Homo sapiens: one gene and its partner. The protein of the gene in region 1 interacts with the protein of each later gene in a pairwise test. Each region holds a gene or a part of one and is shown in the gene's direction. Other genes may lie near its edges.

Region 1 (3,825 bases):
CCAGGCCCGATGTTTTATTTCTGTATTTTATGCCCTCTACTCAGCCCCCCACTGAAGCTGCCTGCCATTAAGACAGACGTTGATCTGCCATCTTCAGTGCCTAGGAAATGCCTCACGCATAGTGTGTGGTCCATACTTATTGGTTGAATAAAATGATACACCATGCCTGCATTTCAGCCGTCTCATCTTCCTAAGAGCCAAGACGCAGGGACCGTGGTCTTCATGTGCTCCGTCATTGCCTGAGTGTTGGGGGTGCTGATTTGCATGCTGTGTTGAATTCTTCAGTACACATTCAGTGGGTTAGGTTCTAAAGTCAACTAGCAGAGCAAAGACCTCATAAGTCAAACTGTCCTCTAAAGTCCTTGAATTGCCTATTAGCTCAGAGGCACTCCCCCTGCTAGAGGCCCAGCGGGGCCTGAGGAAACAGCACGTTCTGTGTCCCATTTCCCTCCCCAGGGAAAGCAGGGGACCGGGCACTGCCACTTCAGCTTTTTGTCCTGGGTACCATGAAATCTATGTAAATGGAACGCATGTGAAGGAACTGCACTGTGTGAGCTACACTGTGTGAAGCACTTTATTGGGAGTGTGAGATCCCACTCAAGTGTATTTTGAAAACCATTTCTGGAGAATGTGTGAGAAAAGAAACAGGGCTGACAGTGATGTGGAAGGAGAGAGTCAGGACAGCTGAGGTCCTGTCTTGGCTCTGTCATCTCCAGGCAGCTGGGGTGCCCGGGGCAGCCACTTCTCTCCTCGGAGACTGCTCCCCACTCTGTGCCACTGCTTGCTCGCCCACCGTCATCTCCAGCACTTCACAGGGCACCTGTCTTCCATGGGTGCTTAGTAAACATTTAAGACAGAAATGAATGGCAGCTTAGACTTGGACCCAGTCATCTCTGATGGCCTTGCAACCTCCAAAAGGTGTTCTCTGGCCAGGAGCAGACACTCACACCTATAATCTTAGCACTTTGGGAGGCTGAGGCAGAAGGATCACTTGAGGTCAGGAGTTTGAGACCATGGCAAACATGGCGAAACCCCGTCTCTAAAAATACAAAAAAAAAAGGCCGGGCACAGTGCCTCACACCTGTAATCCCAGCACTTTGGGAGGCCGAGGTAGGCGGATCACGAGGTCGGGAGATCGAGACCATCCTGGCTAACACGGTGAAACCCCATCTGTACTAAAAATACAAAAAACTAGCTGGGTGTGGTGGCAGGCGCCTGTAGTCCCAGCTACTTGGGAGGCTGAGGCATGAGAATTGCGTGAACCTGGGAGGTGGAGGTTGCAATGAGCCGAGATCACGCCACTGCACTCCAGCCTGGTCTCTGATGTCTGAGTCATAGAGAAATATATACATGGCCAAGCAGATGGCAGTCCCAATCATGACGTGAGCTCCTGTTTTCCCAAGCTTCCAGAATAAGTCTTCTGTCCCAGCCAGCATGAGTGAACTCAGGGCCAGATGTTGACTTAGAGTTACAGGAACTTAGGCAAAAACTGCAATTACTTTTGTACCAACCTAATAAACTTCTATATACTATTTCTTTCTTTTTTTTTGAGGCAGAGTCTTGCTTTGTTGCCCAGGTGGAGTTCAGTGGCGCACTCAGTTCACTGCAGCTTTGAACTCCTGGTCTCAAGTGATCCTCCTGCCTTGACTTCCCAAAGTGCTGAGATTACAGTCCTGAGCCACAGTGCCTGGCCTACTGTATACTATTTCTGTTTTTTTTGTTTTTGTTTTTTTTTTTTGAGATGGAGTCTCACTCTGTCGCCCAGGCTGGAGTGTACTGGCGCAATCTCGGCTCACTGCAAGCTCCACCTCGTGGGTTCAAGTGATTCTCCTGCCTCAGCCTCCCGAGTAGCTGGGATTACAGGCATGTGCCACCACGCCCGGCTAATTTTGTATTTCTAGTAGAGATGGGGTTTCTCCATGTTGGTCGGGCTGGTTTCGAACTCCCGACCTCAAGTGATCCGACTGCCTCAGCCTCCCAAAGTGCTGGGATTACAGGCGTGAGCCACTGCACCCAGTCTATATACTGTTTCATATAATGCAGTGTAAACTACTAATTCAGTTTGTTTCACACCCAACCAATGTAAGTGAATTCTTAGGGTCAGATGCCAACTAAGAGTGATAGAAACTCAGTTAACTAATTTCCATATGCTATATACTGTTGCATCTAATGTAGTGTAAAATACAAATTAGATTCCCACTCTCAGTTCCTAGAGCGCTTTCTTCACCCATCAGAAATGTCTTCAAAATAATTGAAAGAATGCCCTGTAACATGAGAGATCTAAATGTCGCAGGGATGAGCCACTGTCCTCACTGTTCTGAGGGAAAATTGCTGGAGGGGGAGCTTCTGTGTACAGGTATGTATGGTGACTGACACATTTGGAGGAAGAAAGCCTAGAGGTTTGCTTTTCCACATCCCACCCCGACCCACGGAATAGGGGGACTCAGGCAAGACCTGGCCGCGGGCAGAGCCCAGCTCCCTGGCTAAGGACGGCCAGGAGACATTTGTGTCTGAATTAAGACTCTTCCACCTGGGTGGCCGTGAGTGGCCACGTGTCTTGACTGCACTTAACGGCCTGGTGCTTTTTTGTAGGTTGCAGTGGTGTGTCTTGATCTCATCCAACAGACAGCTGGTTGAATAGAGTCAACCCAAGACTGTCCATTTTGTGTCTGCTCAGTACAGGCAGACAGAAGGATTTTTTTTAAGGGCTCCATTTTGAGCACTTAAATGATGGTTCTTTAGGTTCATGCTGTTTCTAAAATTAGTCAGCCTTGTAGTTACCAAGGCCTGCCTGTGGGACAGGTGCAGATGACTTGTTTATTCACTTGTGGTTGAGCTGTGTCTGATTTTTTCCTTTTGCTCTGCATTTCCCCTCCTGTCTGTGCTTCCTTCATTTTCTCTGCTAGCAGGAGAGCATGCAGGAACAAGCTCTTGAGCAGCGTTCTGCCTGGGAGGTAGTTCAGAGTCCTGGCGAGATCACTGGGCGAGTTGGGAGGCCGGGGCTGTGTCCTCAGCATGGGCTCTATCACTCGTTTTTATTATGCATCCAACGGGGACTTTCTTACCAGCCCTCTTTGGTCAGGTGACCTCCTGCTGGGTCTCCTGGCGGGGTCTCCTAGGCTAGCAGGACTGTGAGGTCATTACATTCCAACTTTACAGATCTAAACTTTCCATTTGCCTGGAGTACCGGGAGGTGATCTGGCAGAACTGACTCATTTGACCAAACTCATGGGAGACCTATGGCCATAAGGGGCTGGCTTTGGAGAGGAGGCCACTAACCAGTCCAGGCCTCTGGCTTGCTCTGCAGAGCATTTTCTCCTGTAGGTGAAATTAGATTATAGTCTGAGGTGTGTTTCTGGATTGAGGAGTATGAGGAGTAGTATATATATATTTTTTTGAGATGGAGTTTCGCTCTTGTTGCCCGGCCTGGAGTACAATGATGCGACCTCAGCTTACTGCAACCTCTGCCTCCTGGGTTCAAGTAATTCTTTTGCCTCAGCCTCCCAAGTAGCTGGAATTACAGGCATGCGCCACCACGCCTGGCTAATTTTTGTATTTTTAGTAGAGATGGGGTTTCACCATGTTGGCCAGGCTGGTCTCGAACTCCTGACCTCAGGTGATCTGCGTGCCTCAGCCTCCCAAAGTGCTGGGATTATAGGTGTGAGCCACCGCGGCCAGCCTTTTTTTTTTTTTTTTTTTTTTTGAGACAGGGTTCTTCCCCACTGTTGTCCATGCTAGAGTGCAGCGGTGCAATCATGGCTTACTGCAGCCTCCACCTCCTGGGTTGAGTGTTCCTCCCTCTTCAGCCCCCCAAGTAACTGGGAT
Region 2 (2,490 bases), on another chromosome or scaffold:
CTCACTAGGCATGCTGCCAGAGCAGGAGGGGCAGGTGGAGGGTTCTCTTGTGTCTGTCTTATCAGGGAAGAAGAGCTTTCTCAGAAGCCCCCAGCAGACTCCCTTTTCATATTATGGTCCAGCAATGAGTCACAGACCTATGCACCACCTGCAAAGGAGCCAGAGAAAACAAACGCCCAGCGCTTTTAGCCTGAAAATGAGAATCTGGTTTGCTGGGGAAGATAAAGGGTGTCGGAAAATGGCTGTTGGGTAAATCATTGATGTCTGCCACTAGGAATGAAAGGCAAATCAGGAACTGGCACACATGCTTTCAGGGAGATGGCTGCAAGGGAGAGGGCAAAGACTGGGAAGTTGCTTATGTGGTGCCAGACTATTTGGAAGATCATGGATTGCGGTGTTTGTGTTGTGTGGTCATCATTTTGTTCTTTGTTTACAGAACAGAGAAAGTGGATTGAACAAGGACGCATTTCCCCAGTACATCCACAACATGCTGTCCACATCTCGTTCTCGGTTTATCAGAAATACCAACGAGAGCGGTGAAGAAGTCACCACCTTTTTTGATTATGATTACGGTGCTCCCTGTCATAAATTTGACGTGAAGCAAATTGGGGCCCAACTCCTGCCTCCGCTCTACTCGCTGGTGTTCATCTTTGGTTTTGTGGGCAACATGCTGGTCGTCCTCATCTTAATAAACTGCAAAAAGCTGAAGTGCTTGACTGACATTTACCTGCTCAACCTGGCCATCTCTGATCTGCTTTTTCTTATTACTCTCCCATTGTGGGCTCACTCTGCTGCAAATGAGTGGGTCTTTGGGAATGCAATGTGCAAATTATTCACAGGGCTGTATCACATCGGTTATTTTGGCGGAATCTTCTTCATCATCCTCCTGACAATCGATAGATACCTGGCTATTGTCCATGCTGTGTTTGCTTTAAAAGCCAGGACGGTCACCTTTGGGGTGGTGACAAGTGTGATCACCTGGTTGGTGGCTGTGTTTGCTTCTGTCCCAGGAATCATCTTTACTAAATGCCAGAAAGAAGATTCTGTTTATGTCTGTGGCCCTTATTTTCCACGAGGATGGAATAATTTCCACACAATAATGAGGAACATTTTGGGGCTGGTCCTGCCGCTGCTCATCATGGTCATCTGCTACTCGGGAATCCTGAAAACCCTGCTTCGGTGTCGAAACGAGAAGAAGAGGCATAGGGCAGTGAGAGTCATCTTCACCATCATGATTGTTTACTTTCTCTTCTGGACTCCCTATAATATTGTCATTCTCCTGAACACCTTCCAGGAATTCTTCGGCCTGAGTAACTGTGAAAGCACCAGTCAACTGGACCAAGCCACGCAGGTGACAGAGACTCTTGGGATGACTCACTGCTGCATCAATCCCATCATCTATGCCTTCGTTGGGGAGAAGTTCAGAAGGTATCTCTCGGTGTTCTTCCGAAAGCACATCACCAAGCGCTTCTGCAAACAATGTCCAGTTTTCTACAGGGAGACAGTGGATGGAGTGACTTCAACAAACACGCCTTCCACTGGGGAGCAGGAAGTCTCGGCTGGTTTATAAAACGAGGAGCAGTTTGATTGTTGTTTATAAAGGGAGATAACAATCTGTATATAACAACAAACTTCAAGGGTTTGTTGAACAATAGAAACCTGTAAAGCAGGTGCCCAGGAACCTCAGGGCTGTGTGTACTAATACAGACTATGTCACCCAATGCATATCCAACATGTGCTCAGGGAATAATCCAGAAAAACTGTGGGTAGAGACTTTGACTCTCCAGAAAGCTCATCTCAGCTCCTGAAAAATGCCTCATTACCTTGTGCTAATCCTCTTTTTCTAGTCTTCATAATTTCTTCACTCAATCTCTGATTCTGTCAATGTCTTGAAATCAAGGGCCAGCTGGAGGTGAAGAAGAGAATGTGACAGGCACAGATGAATGGGAGTGAGGGATAGTGGGGTCAGGGCTGAGAGGAGAAGGAGGGAGACATGAGCATGGCTGAGCCTGGACAAAGACAAAGGTGAGCAAAGGGCTCACGCATTCAGCCAGGAGATGATACTGGTCCTTAGCCCCATCTGCCACGTGTATTTAACCTTGAAGGGTTCACCAGGTCAGGGAGAGTTTGGGAACTGCAATAACCTGGGAGTTTTGGTGGAGTCCGATGATTCTCTTTTGCATAAGTGCATGACATATTTTTGCTTTATTACAGTTTATCTATGGCACCCATGCACCTTACATTTGAAATCTATGAAATATCATGCTCCATTGTTCAGATGCTTCTTAGGCCACATCCCCCTGTCTAAAAATTCAGAAAATTTTTGTTTATAAAAGATGCATTATCTATGATATGCTAATATATGTATATGCAATATATATAGGCTCTTGCTTGATCTCTCCAGGAGGTAGTGATTATGAGAAGGGGGTGGAGAATGATGAGTTCCTTCACCAGGAGCAAAGGACGGGGATCGTGTGGAACCACTGCAGA

The links.
Region 2: the proteins of CDIP1 (region 1) and CCR2 interact in a two-hybrid assay, tested with the Homo sapiens proteins (one large-scale study listed by BioGRID and IntAct).

What each region holds. Positions count from the first base shown.
Region 1 is NC_000016.10:4,528,562-4,532,386, reverse strand, and holds part of CDIP1 (cell death-inducing p53-target protein 1), read left to right. Parts: intron 1-3,825. UniProt on the Homo sapiens protein: Acts as an important p53/TP53-apoptotic effector. Regulates TNF-alpha-mediated apoptosis in a p53/TP53-dependent manner.
Region 2 is NC_000003.12:46,357,041-46,359,530, forward strand, and holds part of CCR2 (C-C chemokine receptor type 2), read left to right. Parts: intron 1-436; 5' UTR 437-487; coding exon 488-1,570; 3' UTR 1,571-2,490. UniProt on the Homo sapiens protein: Key functional receptor for CCL2 but can also bind CCL7, and CCL12. Also transduces signaling mediated by CCL13.